Linked DNA regions of Homo sapiens. The protein of the gene in region 1 interacts with the protein of each later gene in a pairwise test. Each region holds a gene or a part of one and is shown in the gene's direction. Other genes may lie near its edges.

What was found. Proteins that work in one complex are often made in the same cells at the same time.
Region 2: the proteins of ATXN7L2 (region 1) and PRDM6 interact in a two-hybrid assay, tested with the Homo sapiens proteins (one large-scale study listed by BioGRID).
Region 3: the proteins of ATXN7L2 (region 1) and CTIF interact in a two-hybrid assay, tested with the Homo sapiens proteins (one large-scale study listed by BioGRID).
Region 4: the proteins of ATXN7L2 (region 1) and SSC4D interact in a two-hybrid assay, tested with the Homo sapiens proteins (one large-scale study listed by BioGRID).

What each region holds. Positions count from the first base shown.
Region 1 is NC_000001.11:109,485,095-109,490,069, forward strand, and holds part of ATXN7L2 (ataxin-7-like protein 2), read left to right. Parts: intron 1-237; exon of another isoform or gene 238-962; coding exon 963-1,028; intron 1,029-1,411; coding exon 1,412-1,516; intron 1,517-1,912; coding exon 1,913-2,123; intron 2,124-2,423; coding exon 2,424-2,710; intron 2,711-3,288; coding exon 3,289-3,371; intron 3,372-3,752; coding exon 3,753-4,006; intron 4,007-4,188; coding exon of another isoform or gene 4,189-4,246; exon of another isoform or gene 4,247-4,835; coding exon 4,836-4,975.
Region 2 is NC_000005.10:123,189,483-123,193,555, forward strand, and holds part of PRDM6 (putative histone-lysine N-methyltransferase PRDM6), read left to right. Parts: 3' UTR 1-4,073. UniProt on the Homo sapiens protein: Putative histone methyltransferase that acts as a transcriptional repressor of smooth muscle gene expression.
Region 3 is NC_000018.10:48,856,273-48,861,425, forward strand, and holds part of CTIF (CBP80/20-dependent translation initiation factor), read left to right. Parts: intron 1-1,315; coding exon 1,316-1,369; intron 1,370-3,071; coding exon 3,072-3,287; 3' UTR 3,288-5,153. UniProt on the Homo sapiens protein: Specifically required for the pioneer round of mRNA translation mediated by the cap-binding complex (CBC), that takes place during or right after mRNA export via the nuclear pore complex (NPC).
Region 4 is NC_000007.14:76,402,146-76,407,455, reverse strand, and holds part of SSC4D (scavenger receptor cysteine-rich domain-containing group B protein precursor), read left to right. Parts: intron 1-2,950; 5' UTR 2,951-3,016; coding exon 3,017-3,149; intron 3,150-4,294; coding exon of another isoform or gene 4,295-4,381; intron 4,382-5,310.

The sequences.
Region 1 (4,975 bases):
GGAGCCCAGGCCACCCTGGGGCTGCCCCATGCTGGGTGGGCAAAGATGGGGCCATTGTCAGGGTCTGGGTGCATTGAGAACCGGAAATGGAGTCAGACGGGTTTGGTGACTCAGAATTGATTTTTTTTTTCCCAAGGGACAGGGAGGGGGCGTAGAGGAGGGAGGGGGGAGGAGAGAGGTAGGGGGATGGGGAAAAAGCTGCTTTGCACAGCTAAGATGTTTTTGTCATTAACCCAGAAACTGAGGTACAAGGGCAACCCCTGCCCAAAGGCCCTCTAAGAAGGGGAGGGACTTGCATAGCTGACCAAGGAGACTTTGAAGATGCTCAAGGACCAAAGACAGCAGTTTCTCTGCTCTGTGACCATCCTATCAGTGCAGGACCTGAGAAGCTGGGTGTAACTTTGACAATGCTATGGTAACCCAGGTGGAGCAAAATTGAGTTCATGGGGGTGGGGACCTGGGAGAGTATCTATTTGGGATGCCACATAGTAGCAGAAAGGACCCATCGAGAAATCTCAAGAAGAGACTCAGGGACTTATAGAAACATTGGTTAAGGACGGTTTCCCCTTTAAATGGGGAAGCAGGCCCAGAAAAGAGATGATACTTACCCACAATCACCCAACTAGTTAGCAGTGGAACCCTAAACTGCACCTTGAAGTGAAGGGTCCCATAAGAAAGGTGGATGGATTCTTCTTAGTGGGGCCATCTTAGTCCAGATGCAGCAGGTGAAGGAAGATGGGCATTTGAGAATGGACCCACTGAAAGGTTCCCCAAGTGGTCCTAGCACCAGGAGCTTGTCACGGAGTGTGGGCTTCATACTGTTGAGCTGCAGGCCCTGCTTGGGGCTTCTGGAAAGGGGACAACCTCTGGGTTGTCTTCTGGGAAGAACAGTCTCTGGTAAGGAGAGGCTGGAGACTCTCTAAAACTGGCCCTGACCCTTCTGAGCTGTGTTTCTCCTCTAGGGGCTGAGCTGGAGGAGAGTAGCAAAAACACGAAGAAGTTGGATGCCATGACCCTCATTAAAGAAGGTGGGAGTCGACACACATTAGGGCTGGGACCCAGGGCAGACAGGACCACGCTCCACTTTTCCACCACACTACAGAAGGAGGTGGCTGCTTGAAGCAGCTGTCTGGGGACCCTCATTTTGATAGGTCCGAGTCGGCCGGTTGTTCTGGCTCCTGTGACCTGTCGTTGGAGATCATAATCATAGGTGATTGCCCACTCACCTGAAAGCGTATACCCTTTGGGACTGCTTAGATCGAACTCTGGAAGCTGGAAGCATTCAGCATGGAGCTTGTTATATCAGCGGGGAGGTGAAGTGCCTTCTGAGTGTGGGGTGGGAGTGCTCTCCGATCTTCCAGAGAAACCCTGGGATCTTCAGCCCCAGTGACATGGGCTTCTGTCATTGCAGACATGTCCATCTTCGGGCACTGCCCTGCCCATGATGACTTCTACTTGGTTGTGTGTAACCACTGCAGCCAAGTGGTGAAGCCTCAAGCTTTCCAGAAGCACTGCGGTGAGGGGAGCCCTAGGGAGGAGATAAAGGGACAGGGGAAGGTGGAGCATGGAACTCTGAGGACAGGGTCAGTTGGGAGGTCTCGTAGGGTAATGGAGGGTGGTGTTGAGGATAGGAAGGTTGTGGGGGTGGCTTCAGAGCATTGTGGGGAGTCGGGTTATTGTTTGAACAAAATTCTAGCATCCAGTGGAATTACGGGAGGAGTTAAGACATTCAGGAAGCTGGGTCTTGAATTTTGAGTCCTAAAGGCTCAGATTCAAATGGGAAGGAGGCATGTTTACAATCTAATTTATGGAAACTCAGATTCTCTCATGTGAGTCTATGGACATGGTTAGGTTGGGGAAGGAAGTGGTGATACCACTCACCTTGATTATTCTTTCCACCTCCTGGTGACAGAAAGAAGACATGGGCCCCTCAGCAAGCTTTATGGCCGGGCCCCACCCCCACCTCCAGCCCCTGCCAGCTCTCAGAAATGCCATGTAGTGAATGGGCAGGGCCCAGCTTGTAGGGCCCCAGGTTCCACGAAAACCTCCTCCAGGGAGAAGGGCCAGGGGTCCCGGAGCCGTGGCCACCAGCCTCCTGAGAAGACCCAGAAGGACAACCTCTGGTAAGGAGAGGCTGGAAACTTTCTAAGACTGGCCCTGACCCTGACCCATGGATGGGCTGACATCAATACAGACAGCCCTGGGTCAAGGCATACTCCTCACAGCAGGAGGCAGCCGTCCTGTCTGCAGCTTCCTTCCATATATTCCAGGGAAGATGGGGTCTCCTCTTCCCGTGTTTCACACCCCTGCTGGAGCCCACCCAAATTCCAGGGCTGGGAAAGAGATGGCTCTGGGCTAGAGTCCAGGCCCCAGGCCTCGCCTCCCCTCCCCTCCCTCAGCCAACCCCCTCTCTCTGTGTGTAGCCTTTTCGTGCCTGTGGTGAATCTGGAGAAGATGTCCAGTCTCCCGAAGCCTGATGGACATGGAATCAGGGTGGCCCCACCCTCTGCTTTTCTCAGCCAGCCAGGGGGCCTCACCAAGGACTCCCCTGGAAAACCTCCCATGGCTCCCCCTTCTAAAGAACCTCCTGGCAGAGAGAACATCGAGATCATCCCCAGTGAGGGGTCCAGTCACTGGGCTGAAGGCAGCCCTCCTGAAAAGGAGCCCAGTGGGACCAGGCTGCCCCCTAAAACCCACCGGAAGATGGCTCGTGAGTAGTTGTGGTCTTGGGGGTCCAGAATGTAGAGTGGGGACTCCTTTGGGCTGCTTTGTCCTTGGGCTGGATGAGGAGGAGGTCAGGTTTATGGGCCTGGCCATCACAGGTTGTAGGGTATAGGAGCCCCGTCACCTCTTGACCTGCTTGCTTCCTGGGAAGCTTCTCTCCATCCTGTGTCTCCTGATCAAGGCTGAGGGAGCCCATGCCCAGGAGGTGAAGTTCTTTCTCACTCTTTTCTCACCTAGATCCAGGGCGCCAGCCAGACACATCTCACAGCTGGCTTCTCTGGCCTCCCAGATGCCCATGGCTGCTTTTGTTTCTTGATGTGTGTTGCCCTGCTTTGGGCTTGAAGTCCCAAAAGGCGCACCTGAAATTGGGATAGGGATGGTTCTCACACCCAGCAAGGAGATGTTGATGCCCAGAAGTTTATCTGGAAGGTACAGCCCCAGGCTGAGGGCTGGAGTCTCTTCTGCCTTAGTACCAGTTCTCAGGCCCTTGGCAGGAAGCGGCCAAATCCTCCTGTAAACTCCTGGAAATGGTCTTGAGGTTCATTGGAAGTGCTTTCCCCACAGGGAAGGAGTGCGACCTCAACAGGCAGTGTGGGGTAATAAATCCAGAGACCAAAAAGATCTGTACCCGCCTGTTGACCTGCAAGGTAACCCCCTTCCCACTGCACGGTGAGGGAGGACAGCACAGGGCTTGCCCACTCCTTCCCTGGGCAAAGAGAGGAATGTCGATGTTACTGAAGGTCCAGCTTAAGGGAGGGCAGTTAGGCCCACCCAAGGGAAGGGGAGATGGGTATGCCCCTCCTGGGCAGAAGGTGGGAACAGTGGGAAGGAGGGAGTTTCCAGATTCCCCCATCCCAAAGGAGGGTTTTGGCCCCATGGGGGAATGAAACAAAGACACATGAACACAGCTGCAAATATGCCCACCTCTCTCCCTGCCCCCCAACTTGCCCGGGCCAAAGCACCCTGCCGTCCCTCACCCCTTCTCAGTTCATACCTACTCCCCAGCTCTCCACTCTGCTGTATTCTAGATCCACTCAGTACACCAGCGCCGGGAAGTCCAGGGCCGGGCCAAGGACTTTGACGTGCTGGTGGCAGAGCTGAAGGCCAACTCCCGCAAAGGGGAGTCTCCCAAGGAGAAGAGCCCAGGGCGCAAGGAGCAAGTTCTCGAGCGCCCCTCCCAGGAGCTCCCCTCCTCAGTCCAGGTTGTAGCAGCGGTGGCTGCTCCCAGCAGCACCTTCTCTGTTCGTGCCAAGCAGACCTACCCATACTGTGCACTGCCCAGGTACGTCTAGAATCCAACCCCTACCTCACCTGGGGGTACTTGGCCCCTAAGCCATCAGGGGCCCCTGGAAACAGGCTCAGGGAGTGTCCTGGAAGAGGCACTCCCTCAGCCCTGAGTGTGGGGGTATTCCTGGGGCTCCTGACAGTGGTGTGGAAGCAGGAGACTCCCCTGTTTCCAACCAGGCATACCACAGCACCCCAGCCTCTCGGCAGTGTGCCAGATCCAACACTCAGGATATGAACATTTTCCCAGCTGCCTCCAACAGACCGAAACTTGTCACTGGGGAGCTGAAAGGGTCACACTCCTGGGCAAGGCAGCCCTATGTGTATTCACTCACTGGCCCCTTCGCGTGCAGAGGCTATGCCGGACCCCAGGGAGAGCCTGACTTGCTGAAGGAGACACACATGCATCTCTGCCTGTCACACAAGGGGCAGACACGAAACACAGGCTCAGCTCACAGACAGGCTCACAGGAATATGTGATGCAAGAAGGGGGTTGAGCGAGTTGACTGGGCTGACCAGAGCTGGGTACAGTTTTAACTGTGAAGATTTTCTGGAGGAGGCGGATCTGCAGCAGATTATCCCCTGAGGAGGAAGGGGCTGGGAGGTGAAGGGGCTGGGGAGAGAATCCCTTGGGAGCAGTCTCTCTGTCTCTTACTCTGTGAGCTGTGTCGTTCCCTCCTGTCCTTCCCTTCCCTCTGTCCTCTTCTGATTGCCCTGCAGGGTGTCTGCCCTGGTGCCCTGCTCTTTGAGCTCGGCAGGTTCAAGGATGCCCCTACTCTGACCCCACAACAGTCACATTCCCCTGGCATCCCTTTTGGCCCTTCCAGGTCCCGGGCCTCCTCCGAGAGTGAATTGGATGATGAAGGCCCCTGTGGTGGTGATGGGGACCCAGGCCTGTTCCCCTTCCCCATGCCCCGGGGTGGGACCCAGGCCTCCAGCGAAGAGAGTGAGGAGGAGGGGACATCTG
Region 2 (4,073 bases), on another chromosome or scaffold:
GGGAAGGTTTTCCTTAACAATGATCTCTCTGCCACCCTGATAGCTTTGCTAGCTGATCCCAAACTTCCACTGAATGTGGCAGTAACCTGTACTCCAAAACACTCTTCTAGTGTTCTGCTCCATTTAAATCTATTTTTATCCTCTATTATTAAGAGAAATTGTTGGCATATATATTCCACCAAATTTGGTCAGAAAATATTTTCTGCCTAACAAATAGAAAATTGGATACTCTAATTTTCCAGGCATGTGGGCACATTCACAATTTTTACATTGCTGTCCTATTGCCAGCTTCTAGCAGACCAGCCTAGGCTGTCTGTCCACAAAGACAGGCTTACACCTGGACATTGACTTGGAACCCTGAAGCAGGTACTGAGATCATTTGGGTCCAAAATGATTTTAATCTAAGTGTATGCTGGGGAGGAGGTTTCTCTTTGAAACTTCCTAACAATTGCTTTAGCCTTTTCTATTTAAAGTGGACACACAGTCCCCTGGGATACAGCAAATGGGTGGTAGAAATTGCAGTCGTAAAATTTGCCAGTTTTTCTTATTAGTAACTTCCTAATTAGTAGTGCTATAAAGAGAGTAAATGCTCTGAATCACTGGGGAAAGGATATTTAAGATAAGAAAGGTAGTCTGTCAGAGCTGAATCAGGGTTTGGCTCTTGAAGCAATCCTTCTTTACTCTTTTCTTTCAATGGGGATAAAATAATAATAATTTTTTCAGAATAAGACTTTTCATCCTAGCGTATGTTCCTTTATTTAGCAGAGTCTAAGACGAAAGGTAATGCCAGGGAAAAGTCAGGGTGCAATAGGATGAGAGATGGAGCTGCAGACCTTTGCATTTCTAGAAAAATCTCAATATCCCAAGGCAAAGTTGTATTTTCCCCAGGATATGTGCATACATTTTTCATAGATAAGCTTTTCATTTTTGTTTTGTTTTTATCTTTAAAAATGACTTTTTTGGAGGAGATATACTTCTAAAAAGTTATTGTATGGCTAATTAAAGCTATGAAACTTAATCTCATATAATTTATATAATTTGATTCAGTTGGTACATTTTTTATTGTGTTCATTTAAATGTAGCCTTCTTGGGAAACTATGTATAACAGGAAAAGATCATGACATCATTGTGTCCTCATAGGGCTCATAATTGAATTTTACCTTGTAAAAATTTCATTCTGGTTCAGGTATGCAAAGATTTATACGAACATTTAGCAGTTCATCAATTTTTAAATCAGATGTTCATTGTTTCATTCATTTATTCAACAAGTATTTATTGAACTCTTATTTTATATAAAGACCCCATTTTATGTGTTCACCATAAGCAGCATTATTTAAGTGACTATTCATGATAAAATAATATTCTCCTCCTAAGTGGCTGCTAGTAAAATGGGTATTTTAGTCCTTTAGACCATTGTCTCAGTGAAGTTAAAGATTTTGTTCCAACTGGGAAAATCTGAGAGAGGTAAATTCATCTGGGGACCAGAAAATAGCATATTGCAAAACAAGTTAAGATGCACAACTTGGTTGTCTTTGCTTAACTCACTGGGCTATTGGTTGTTAGCAGCAGTATCAAGAGACCAGGATTAGGGCCTGGGTCTTGGGTTTTTATGACCCCCCCTTTCAATGATAAGGCAACAAGTTGGGTACAAGGCTGGAGTTGCTCAGGGAAGGAGATCTGCGACCCTGAATGGGTCAGAGTTGCCTCATTAGTGGTAAGCGTTGGCAGTGTAGTCCCTTTCCCCGGTGTGCAGAAGTAACATTATTTGTTTTGCACTAATTTAAAATTTAAAATGCAAGTATCTATTGAGTTGTTTAAAATGGGAATCATGGCACGTCTCACAAAGAGGGCATTTCCAGAACAGCAGGGTTAACGGGTCCCTCTGAGTGTACCCAGCAGCCTGCGTTTAGGAGCAAATTCATTGCTCTCATATTAAGGCTATGCATGCCTACAGAAACCAGGCCAGGAATAAGAAATAAATAATCACATTTCCTGAAATGTTTATCTGTTTCTTCCTTGACATGAATTTAATTTTTATTTCCCAGAGTCTTTACTAGATCCTGACATCAGATTTTAAAAGATACTGAGATATATGCTTCTTTAAATGATAACTGTAAGTTCCAGAAATGTTATTCACTTGTCAGGATCCTTTTAAGGTGAAGAGCTTTGGAAAATTTTATGCGCTAACTAGATACCTGGGTGATCATCAACCCAAAGTTTAAAGTTCTCCCCTCACTAGCATTTATCTGAACTACCACAAAACAACAACGCAGGTTACTAGGAAGGCACCTATTTCAGCCCTCCCCAAGATTGCATTCTACAAACCCAGAGATCAGCTGTCAGGTACAACTGGCCAGACAGAGCCAAACTGAAAAGAATATTGCTTTATCTGTGGAAACCTTGCCACAGATGTTTAACCTGTAGTCCATGGCTGTGTTTGACATTTAAAATATTTATTTAGTTTCTTCCTTTAAATAATAAATGCCAGATGTTTCATCAGATCAATATGTAAAACGATAACAAAAAATATGTCGGAAACAGGTCAAAGTCATGAAACATTTGAATTGTCTTTCCTATAGACTGAATATGCCACCACTGCACTTAGAAAACCTATGGAGGAAATTTTAATGGAAAAATAAGGACATTCTGCGCTTATTCCCACAGAGGTTGATGGGAATGATGATGATTATAAATTATATTGTGCAATTACTGCCATGCCTTGTTCTAATGCTTAATGTGGATTATCTCTTTTAATCCTTAGTAACTCTATAACAAAGATACTATCATTATCCCCTTCTCATATATGCTTAACAGTTTTAGCTTTGTAGCTTCTTTAGTTTTTTTCCTCCTTCAAAGCCATAAACAGGCAATTGTTAAAAGAGGAAAATACTTCTCTATGTAAAGCTTTTTTTTGAGAACAAGAGCTTTTAAAAATTAATAAACACAAGTATAATTTATTTATAAAATGTGTTTGTGGAAACAATACTGAAGTGCTATTAAAACACGTATCATTATAGATGCTGATTTTGTCATGCCCAAATCTCATTGCTGGACAGAATTTCAACTATTCCATTGCTGTCAGGCATTGTTTTTGTTTTTCTAAGCAGGAATCTAAAATTCCACATTGAAAGAAAAAAAAATAACCCTCTCAAGTGTGATATACATTAGGACAAATGGCAACAGGCAGGAAGGGCAGGTTGTGTTGGAGGGTGGCCAGAAGAGAATAAGGTTCGAACACTATCGACAGGTAAAAACACATCCTCAACGGGGCTAAGTGAAATCTCGTTTTCTTTCTTTGTTCTGACTGAATGCTAAGTGAGTTACTTTCCAGGCATCAATGGAGTCATTACGCAGTTGTGTGCATTAAGAATATGGGCTTATGTTGTTAGCCTGTTGGTTTAAAGCAGTGCAGCAGAAAGACTGGAGTCATTATAGGTTTGGTTTGTCAAAGGCACAGATAGTGTAGTTACATGCATGAGGTACTCAAGGAACCAGTTCAAGTTCTGGGGCACAATCTAGATGAAACTGTGAGGTTTGTTCAAAAAGTAAGTGTACAAAATTTCATCATGAACTGGCTTTATTACAACTCTTTACCGTGGTTTATTGAAACCACAATGTATACTACTTTCCTCCAGATTCTGATTCTAATGGGCACATTTGTTTGTTGAAATGATAAATATATTTTCCTTGTCAAACATGGTGGGTCCTGGTTGATATCTCCTGTTTCCTGCCTTGAAAAACATCCTTGTTGGTGCCTTTCTCCCACTTTGGTACATCACTCCCAACTGAAAACAGTCTAGATATAAACTTTAACAAGCTGGAGATCTATTTCTACAGCACAACTCTTTCATGTTTAAAAGCAATTATGCCGTATCAGGTGATTGCCACATGTTGGGGAAAGCAGCCATCTTAGAGCAAAAGTCTGCCAACCCACAGTCCCTGTTGATCCACATGTGGGCATTGTCTAATGTTAACAAAATCAGCACTTGTAGACTTACTTTCTCTGAACAATCTAGTACACTTCTCTAGTTTCTCCCAACCTGGAGAAAATGTATAGCAAAAGCCAGAGGCAA
Region 3 (5,153 bases), on another chromosome or scaffold:
CTGTAGAGAAACCAGAACCCTCATGCATTGCTAGTGAGAGTGTAAAATGATGGAGCCATTGTGGGAAAACAGTCTTGCAGCTACTCAAAAAGCTGAACATAGAGTTACCACATGACCCAGAAATTCTAATCCTATGTAATATCCAGGAGAATTGAAAACATGCATCCAGGAAAAGCCTGGTACACGAAGGTTCATAGCAGCACTATTCCTAATAGCTAAAAGGTGGAAACAACGCAAAAGTCCATTAACAGATGAATGGATAAACAAAATGTGACATATCCTTACAATGGAATATTAGTCAGCCACAGAAAGGAATGAGATACTGGTATATGCTACAACATGAATGAACCCTGAAAACATTAAGTGAAAGAAGTCAATCACAAAAGGCCACATATTGTGTGATTCTATTTCTATAAAATGTCCAGCACGGGCAACTCCATAGAGACATAGAATCGGGGGGAGTTGCCAGAGGCTGGAGTGAGGAGGAACAGGGAATGGCTGCTAGTGGGTATGGGTTTGTATGGGGAGTGATGAAAATGTTCAGAACTTAAATAGTGGTGATGGTTGCACAATTCTGGGGATATCCTAAAAAGCACTGCATTATATACTTTAAAATGGTGGATTTTGTGTTATGTGAATGGTATCTCAATTTAAAAGAGACAGAGAGATTGAGAGAATGAGCCAGGCAAGTCGGGGGAAGCATGGACTGTAGCACGGCAGGACTGAGCGCTGAGCAGCCCAGCCATGGCCCTAGTTAGGAAACAGTTCCAGCCCCTGAGTAAGTCCACAGGTTTGTGGGTTTGAAAGTCTACAGCACTGGGCCAGTGGAGAAGAGGGCTTTGACTCCTGGACTTCCTCCTGTGGCCAGGGCCCAGGGGTGCCTGAGTCAATGGCTGAACCTCCTCACCCATAGAGGAGTTACCAATTATACGTCTCTAAGCTAATTTCATTTCCCTGAGGACTTCTGCTGACCAGTTGTTAACACTGGATGATCCCAGCGCACTCACTGCTGCAGGCTTTCTCTTCAGTGGCCTCTTGAATCACGGTGTTCAGACCTGGCCCAGGGGCTCCACATCGCACCATCACACTGACCTCCAGCTGCTCTAACCCTGTCGGAGAAATCACGGCCACCCGGCGCAACTGACTTTCTGCTCTCTGACTTTTGTGGGCTCTCACTCTAGCCTGAACCTTGGAGATGTTTGTTACAGGCCGCATCAGGGCTGGGGCTGCAGGTCGGCGGGGGCTGCAGGGAGCTACAGGGCCCAGTAGCCGGCATGTCTCCTTCAGTGGTGCTCTCTGCCCCTCTCTTCCACAGCTCTTGCAATCTCAGGATGTGAAGGAAGATGCTGTCCTTTGCTGCTCTATGGAGGTAAGCTTTGGGGCTTCGACATCCCCAACCTCAAAGCCGGTGCATCTCTCATGCCTTAACAGTTCTAGGGGCACGAGGGTTGTTGGAGGCATTTACAAGTCCAGGGGAAGGTAGGTGGATGGCTTCAGGAGTGGGCATGGACTTCTGCATCCAGAATTATCCACCCCAAGCCAGAGTGAACACTGATGGTGAGAGCAGCTCACCCCTGACTGAAGGGAGAGAGAAGTGATTCCCAGTGGCATTGCCTACTTCCCTGTCCCCCAAAGACCCCCTGCGCCCCAGCTCAGGCATGCCACACAAATGACTTAAGAAGTTCCTGATTACCTCTGCCCTCAAATATTTCCCTTTGCTTTGCTAATGCTTGGCAATGCAGTGCTGGCACAGCCCACCCGAAAGCACACCTCTTGGGAGGTGCCACTCCTGTCCCTAAGCTGTGGCCCCTGCTAATGGAGACTCTTCCTCTGGGCTCTCCCTTTAGCGCCTGGCTTTGGCCCAGTCCCTGGGCAGATCTCTGCCCTCTGCAGATGGTCCAGAGTCACTCAGAGTGGGATGCAGGCAGGAGAGGGGCTTCCAGACGAGGACCTGGGCCTGGCAGCTGTCATAAGCATACTCAGGTGGCTTCCGCCTGGCTGCAAAGGCCTCACTGAGGAGCTCAGAGGCCAGAAGCACTGGGAGCCAGATGGCAGTCTTGGGTCTGTGGGACTCAGTTTGTTTGTTGGCCTCCAGCTGGGCACCCTACAGGGGGCTTGGGATTAGGGGGGAATTAGGGAGAAGGAGAAAGCCTGGTCCTTGCCCTCAGGCAGCTTCCAGTCTGGTTAGGAATAGCTCTCAGAGAGTAGATAGAATAAGTGTAAGTACAGAGACATCCCTGAAGAGTCAGGGGAGAGAGGTCAGGAAGGGCTCAGGGGTTCAAGGGAGGCTTTGTGAAGAAGGCAGAGACTAGAAAAATGAATGGGACAAGGCTGGGGACCGAGACGGGGACTGAGATTCTATAGAGAGGGCCTGGGGGGCACTGGCCAGGGGTGTGCTGGTCCAGGAATAGGGGCTCCTTCCCAGTGGGCTTTTCAAGATTATCTAGGGCTCTCCTGACGGCCTCTGGCTGGCCTTCTTCCCCAGTTTGTATTTCTCTCCCCCACTTCCTGTCACAAGCATGAGCAGAGGTCACTTCTGGGGGCTGGGAGATGGGATCAGGATCAGGAGAAAAGGAGAGCGAGAGAAACAGGAGGCATCACCCCTGCTCTCAAGTTCCAATGGACACATGTAATAATGACTAAGCTCATTGCCAGAGAGACGCCCCAGCAAGTGAAAATGACCACAGGGCCCCCTGATCACCAAGGGGCACAGATCATGGAGCCATTTGAGGGTGCGGATGTAGTCAGGGAAGGCTTCCTGGAAGAGGGAGGCTCTTGGGTAAAAGGGACAAGAGGCATGTTCCTGGTGACAGCTCTTTCAGCCCTGGGCAGTAGGCAATATTCGGATCCCTCTGGATCCTGCTGGCAGATTGGTTGGTAAATGTGAGCTCTCACTCTTGGCTACTCCACCTTCCACTCTCCCTGTCCTCATTCCAGCTGTGGCACAGGGGTCTGGGCCTGTGTGTCCTTAAGACAACCCAGCTATTTCCTATCCCTGCCCACCTAATCAGGGTGGCCAGTGGGCCACTGTGGGACCCGAGGCCATCCTAACCCCACATCTCTGTCTGCAGCTGCAGAGTACAGGCCGGCTGCTGGAGGAACAGCTGCCTGAGATGATGACAGAGCTCCTGGCCAGCGCACGGGACAAGATGCTGTGCCCCTCGGAGTCCATGCTGACCCGGTCGCTGCTCCTAGAGGTCATCGAGCTCCACGCTAACAGCTGGAACCCTCTGACGCCCCCCATCACGCAGTACTACAACAGAACCATCCAGAAACTGACAGCCTGACAGCCAGGGGGCCTGGCAGGCGGCCCACGGGCAGCTGGGGCCCTGGTGCACAGGGCCAGATGGACAGGCGGGAGGACAGGGGTGGCCCTGGCGGGAGAAAGAAATGGGGAGGAGGGCAGGCAGAGTCGGTGGCCAGTCTGGAGCCAGACGGGGAAGGGAGCAAATCCCTGAGAGGAGTGCCCCCGCACAAGCCCCCCAGCCCGAGCATGCAAGCTCACACCAATAAGGGAAGCATGTTTCTTTTTCCTGGTGGCCCTGGCCCTCCCCTTCCTCACTCCCGCCTCTCCCCTCCCCATCAGACCCATCCCCCACGGAGCTTTGTGTGAGGGATCTCATCGCTGTGACTCCTCGGAGACCTTGGCAGCCTCGCACGCCGGGGCACCGCTTGGGTCAGAAAGGACCTCGGAAGGCTGAAAAAGTGGGTCGGAGACGGGCTCGCATTGTTCCCGCATGCTGTCAGCCGCAGTCGCCAACTGGCAGCAGGCGACGTGTAGCAGATGTCCGGGAGGACAAAGGCAGGCACGGTCCCCACCAGCCGCCCGTAATTGACGGCCTTTGTCAGCCATGGCAGAGCTGACGCTCCACCTCCCACCTCCAAGTCCTCCTCACTGCAGCCCCCACAGCCTCAGGCCTAGGGGGTCAGGCGCAGCGGGGGAGATGGAGTTTGCAGTTCCACTTGCACTCTTTTGTTTATTGTGTTTTATTTTTCAAAAGTCGGTTGCTTTGAAGTCTCTTTGGCCAATGAAAATGCCCGTGATGTGATCACACAGTCAGCACTGTTGAGGACCCCCGGATTAGTGGGAGATCAAACCCAGCTCCCCTCTAGAAGAAGGATTCGAGCCACAGACAGCTTGCCAGTAGCCAATTAGGGTAATTGGAAACTTCTGCCCCGGCGGGGGGTCCCCGCTGGAATCCTGTGTTCCTCGCCACTGGCTTCCAGCGCCTCTGTTTTCTCAAAGGGCTGATACTGTCACCACTGGGACCAAGTTAAACCTGGTCCTGGCCCCAGGGGCCTTGTGGCAAACAGGGCACAGAACGAGACTGGCAAATTAAAACCAAAATTCTAGATGGTGTCTTGCGCTCCACACGCAGGTCTTACTGGGGAAAAGGATGGGAGTGGGGGCTCCCCAGGACTCGATTTTAGCTAATGCGCTGTGTCACTGCCCCAGCTCGGACGTAGAAGCCCAGCCCTCCGTGAGCTCTTGGGAAAGGGGTGAATTCACTGGGTCATGGAAGGGACAGTCAGGTGACCAGCGGGGTCGCCAGATGAAGCTTCCCAGCCGGGAAACAAGACGGGGTTTCTTGGCAGGCCCTGGTCCTGGGGAGCAGGCCCTGTTGTTGGCTGGAGAGGAAGGTGTGGGGTGGAACAGGTGTCCACATAGCTCCATCTCTGGGGGCTGGAGCACACACTTTGATGAGCCCCCCCGGAAATGATGTCAGAGCCTAGCCGCTTCCTTATTTGCTCTTTTATTGAGGCCGGGCAGGCCCTGGGTCACTTTGGAGGCCCCTCTTGGTCCACACTGGACTGGCCGGGAGGTGATGGGCGGGGAAGGTTCTCGTGATTGATTGATTCTGAGTCTGAGAGTGGCGAGTGGGGAGAGGCTTCCCCAGTTCTCTCCAGCTTTCCCTGCAGCTGCAACCTGCCCTCTGGTCCCAGGTGTGGAGCCTTTGCCTGTCTCTAAAAAGAGCCTGTTGGCGACAAGGTGTAGGGGGCACAAGTTTACCTGAAACAGGTCAGTGGTCTCTCCCAAGAAGCGCACGCCACCTCTGGTCCCTGGCCCTGAACCCTGCCTTCTTCCTCCCTCCACGGTTTCTTCCCAGACTTTCTCAAGCTCCTCCTCACTGCCCTTCCTCCCCAGCCCAGCC
Region 4 (5,310 bases), on another chromosome or scaffold:
GGAGGCTGGGGCAGGAGAATCGCTTGAACCTGGAAGGTGGAGGGTGCAGTGAGCCGAGATTGTGCCACTGCACTCCAGCCTGGGCGACAAGGCGAGACTCTGTCTCAAAAAAAAAAAGAGATCCTCCCGCCTCAGCTTCCCAAAGTGCTCACAGGAGTAAGCTGCCACACTTGGCCTAGAGTTAATTTAAATCAGGGCCAAGCCTGGTGGCTCACACCTGTAATTCCAGCACTTTGGGAGACCGAGGCGGGTGTATCACTTGAGGTCAGGAGTTCCAGACCAGCCAGGTCAACATGGGGAAACCCCGTCTCTACTGAACATACAAAAATTAGCCGAGTATGGTGGCACATGCCAGTAATCCCAGCTACTCGGGAGGCTGAGGCAGAAGAATTCCTTGAACCCAGGAGGTGGAGGTTGCAGTGAGCTGAGATCAGGCCACTGCACTACAGCCTGGGTGACAGAGGGAGGCTCTGTCTCCAAAAATAAATAAATAAATAAATAATTTAAATCAGAAGAAATGTGCCAATAAAATGAGAAAAATATTAAGTAAATCATAGTTACCATGACACACAAATACATAAAAAAAGTGAAGGAAGGTCTGAGAGACTAAACGCTGCTTACAATGCTCGGCCCATTTTGGGTGGAAAGGCCTTGAAGATTTTTTTTTTTTTCTGATTTAGGATTGGGGTATTAAAAACAAAAAAAGTGCAAGACAGGAGGATCACTTGAGGCCAGGAGTTTGAGACCAGCCTGAGTAACACAGCACGAGAGCCCATCTCTACTAAAAAGAAAAAAAGAAAAATAATTAGCTGGGTGTGGTGGTGCAAGCCTGCAGTTCCAGCTCCTCAGGAGGCTGAGACGGGAGGATCCTTTGAGCCCAGGATAGGGAGGTTGCAGTGAGCCATGATCATGCCACTGCACTGCCGCCTGGGTGACAGAGTGAGACCCTATCTGTAAAAAATAAAAAATAAAAAAATTCTTTAAAGTAAAAAAAATTAATTAATTAATTTGAAAGGGAGACTATATTGTTCTGATAAACGGAAAACCAGAGTCCTTTTTAGAAGGCATTGTACAATTTAAAAAGAATTATTGAAAATAAAACAATACATGAGTATCTATATCCTCCCAAATTAAGTGGGTTGCTGTCCGTGGCACCAATACTATATTTCGAATGCACAGACCAGGTGCGGTGGCTCATGCCTGTAATCCCAGCACTTTGGGAGGCTGAGGCGCGTGGATCACCTGAGGTCAGGAGTTCAAGACCAGCCTGGCCAACATGGCGAAAACCCATCTCTACAAAAAATGAGCCGGGCGTGGTGGCGGGTGCCTGTAATCCCAGCTACTCAGGAGGCTGAGGCAGGAGAATCGCTTGAACCCGGGAGGCAGAGTTTGCAGTGAACGGAGATCGCACCATTGCATTCCAGCCTGGACGACAGAGCGAGACTCCATCAAAGAAAGAAAAGAAAAGAAAAGAAAGGAAAGGAAAGGAAGAAGGAAGGAAGGAAGGAAAGAAAGGGAGGGAGGCAAGAAAGGGAGAGAGGGAGGGAAGGAGGGACAGAAGGAAGGAAGGAAAGAAAGAAAACAAAATCAAATGTGCAGCCCTGGAGGATAATCTCTGAGTCCTTGGGCTGGTCATGGTTTGGGCCGAGCCAACCCTGCCAACCCCCTCTCCCACCATTTGCCCTCTTCACACATCCTCAGCTACAGCCATGACCGACTCCTCATGCGTTTCCATCCAAGCAGCATCTTTTTCACCTCCCAGCTTTTGCCTCTGCCGTCGTCTCCACTCAGAATGCCAAAGGCAAGTGGAAATGTCATTTTCCCCTGAAGCTGACCCCTCTAGGAAGTAAACACTTGGAACTTTTTTCTTTTTCCTGCAGCCTTGGTGCAAGTGATCCTCCTACCTCAGCCTCCCCATTAGCTGCAGCTACAGACATGTGTCACCATACCCGACTCATAAAAAAGAAATGTTCTGGGCTGGCACGGTGGCTCACGCCTGTAATTTCAGCACTTTGGGAGGCCAAGGTGGGCGGATCCCTTAAGGTCAGGAGTTCGAAACCAGCCTGGCCAATATGGTGAAACACCCTCTCTACCAAAAAAAAAAAAAAAAAAAAAAGAAAGAAAGAAAGAAAAAAATACATATATATATATATATATATATATATATATATATATATATATATAATTAGCTGGGTGTGGTGATGCACGCCTGTAATCCCAGCTACCCAGGAGGCTGAGGCAGGAGAATCACTTGAACCTGAGAGATGGAGGTTGCAGTGAGCCGAGATTGTGCCATTACACTCCAGCCTGGCCACAGAGTGAGACTCTGTCTGAAAAAAAAAATCTACTAATTTTTGTATTTTTAAAATTTAATTTTTTTCTTTTTGAGGCAGAGTCTTGCTCTGTCGCCCAGGCTGGAGTGCAGTGGCATGATCTCAGCTCACTGCAACTTCTACCTCCCGGGTTCAAGAGATTCTCCTGCCTCAGCTTCCCGAGTAGCTGGGATTACAGGTGCACTCCACCACACCTGGCAAATGTTTGTATTTTTGGTACAGATGGGGTTTCACCATGTTGGCCAGGCTAGTCTCGAACTCCTGACCTCAAGTGATCTGCCTCCCTCAGGCTCCCAAAGTGCTGGGATTACAGGCATGAGCCACCGCAGCCGGCCTAATTTTTGCATTTTTTGGTAACAGACAGGTTTTCGCCATGTTACCCAGGCTATATCTCGATCTCCTGGGTTCAAGCGATCCACCCGCCTCAGCCTCCCAAAGTGCTGGGATTACAGGCATAAGCCACCACACCCGGCCTCATTTTTAAAAACTTTTTGTAGAGATGGGGGTCTCACTATGTTGCCCAGGCTGATCTCAAACCCCTGGGTGCAAGCAATCCTCCCACCTCGGCCTCCCAAAGTGCTGGGAGGCCCAGCAACATTTGGGATCTTTAATTTCAGATGTTCCAACTGTGACTTCTCCCTGGCGCCTTGATGGGAGCATCTGAAACACCCTTCACCATCTAGATGCACAAGGAAGCAGAGATGCTAATTGGTCCCCAGCTGGATGAGAAGCGCTGGGGGTGGAGGTTGGGAGATGGGAGTGCTGCCCCTCCCTTCCTCCCCCAAGCCCTGTCTTTCCTTCTCCTCCTGCCACTGGGTGAGTCCTCCCCTGTTAGCCCTTGCCACTTCCTCTTTCTGAATCTCAGTTGTCCCAGCTGTAACTTTATAGTAGGAGGAGGGTTGTGAATGAGCTCGTTCCTGTTGTTCTTTCCAATGCTGACCTTTGCCCAGAGTTGACAAAAGAGCTAAGAGTCTGAGTTTGGGGAATGAAGGGCTCAGTACTGGAGGTGACAGGTAAACGCACCCATGGAATGGGCAGTTAGGGGACACTGGGCACAGGGAAGGACAGAAAGAGGGTGTGCTCACCAATGGCTGTTGGAAAGACAGCTGGTAAAAGAGATGAAATCAAATGACCTAGGGACTATCCAAACATAAGAAGAAGGCCGGGCTCGGTGACTCACACCTGCAATCCCAGTACTTTGGGAGGCCAAGGCGGAAAGATCACCTGAGATCAGGAGTTTGAGACCAGCCTGGCCAACATGGTGAAACCCGCGTCCCTACTAAAAATACAAAAATTAACCAGGCTTGGCAGCACGCACCTGTAATCCCAGCTACTCAGGAGGCTGAGGCAGGAGAATCACTTGAACCTGGGAAGTGGAGGTTGCAGTGAGCCAAGATCACGCCACTGCACTCCAGCCTGGGTGACAGAGCGAGACTCTGTCTCAAAAAGAAATAAAGATAAATAAATAAATAAGAATAAGTTGAATCAGCCAGGCACGGTGGCTGTCGCCTGTAATCCCAGCACTTTGGGAGGCTGAGGAGGGCGGATCATGAGGTCAGGAGTTCAGGACCAGCCCGGCCAACATGGTGAAACCCCGTCTCTACTAAAAATACAAAAAATAGCTGGGCATGGTGGCGGGCGCCTGTAATCCCAGCTACTCAGGAGGCTGAGGCAGGAGAATTGTTTGAACCCAGGAGGTGGAGGTTGCAGTGAGCTGAGATTGCGCCATTGCACTCCAGCCTGAGTGACAGGGCGAGACTCTGTCTCAAAAAAAAGAAGTGGAGTCTCAGTTTCTTCATCAGTAAAATGCGTACACAAGTACAGGCTGCAGGGGGTGGTTATAAGGAAAGTGTCAGAACTGTCATACTCGGACCACAAGTGAGGAATTATTTTCCGGCTTTCCATTTTGCCTGGTAGGCAAATTTCACTTCCCTGTTTCCTCTCCCACCTCCACTCTCAAGCATCGTGCTCAGAACTGCATGATGAAGAAGAGTGTGGCTGTCTGGGTAGTCTCTCAGCTCTACCCTTGATTTGCTACGTGGCCCTGAGTAAGTTGTCTAATCTCACTAACCCTGAAGTTGCCCTGTCTGTAAAATCCTGCCTAACTTATAAATTATCCTAATGATTAACTGAGTTCGCCTAAAGAAACCAATGAAGGCCGGGTGCAGTGGCTCACGCCTGTAATCCCAGCACTCTGGGAGGCTGAGGCGGATGGATCACCTGAGGTCGGGAGTTTGAGACCAGCCTGACCAACATGCAGAAACCCCATCTCTACTAAAAATACAAAATTAGCCAGGCATGGTGGTATGCCTGTAATCCCAGCTACTTGGGAGGTTGAGGCAGGAGAATCACTTGAACCCAGGAGGGGGAGGTTGCGGTGAGCAAAGATGGCACCATTGCACTCTAGCCTGGGCAACAAGAGCGAAATTCCGTCTCAAGAAAAACAAAAAAGAAAAAAAGAAAGCAATGAGGACATACATGATGGCTGAAGCAGAAAGACTCAAGGCCAGGCAAGGTGGCTCACACCTGTAATTCTAGCACTTTGGGAGGCTGAGACGGGAGGATCACTTGAGGCCAAGAGTTCGAGACCAGCCTGGGCAACAAAGTGAGACCCCTGTCTCTACAAAAAATTAAAAAATTAGGCCAGGAGCGGTGGCTCATGCCTGTAATCCTAGCACTTTGGGAGGCTGAGGCAGGCGGATCACTTGAGGTTAAGGGTTCAAGACTAGCCTGGCCAACATGGTGAGACCCCATTTCTACCTAAAAAATATAAAAATTAGCTGGGTGTGGCGGTGTGCGCCTGCAGTCCCAATTACTCGGGAGGCTGAGGTGGGAGAATCACTTGAACCCAGGAGGCAGAGGCTGCAGTGAGATGAGATCATGCCACTGTGCTCCAGCCTGAATGGAGTAAGACTCTGTCTCAAAAAAAAAAAAAAAAAATAGCTGGGCAGGGTGGCAGGAGCTTGTCCCAGCTATT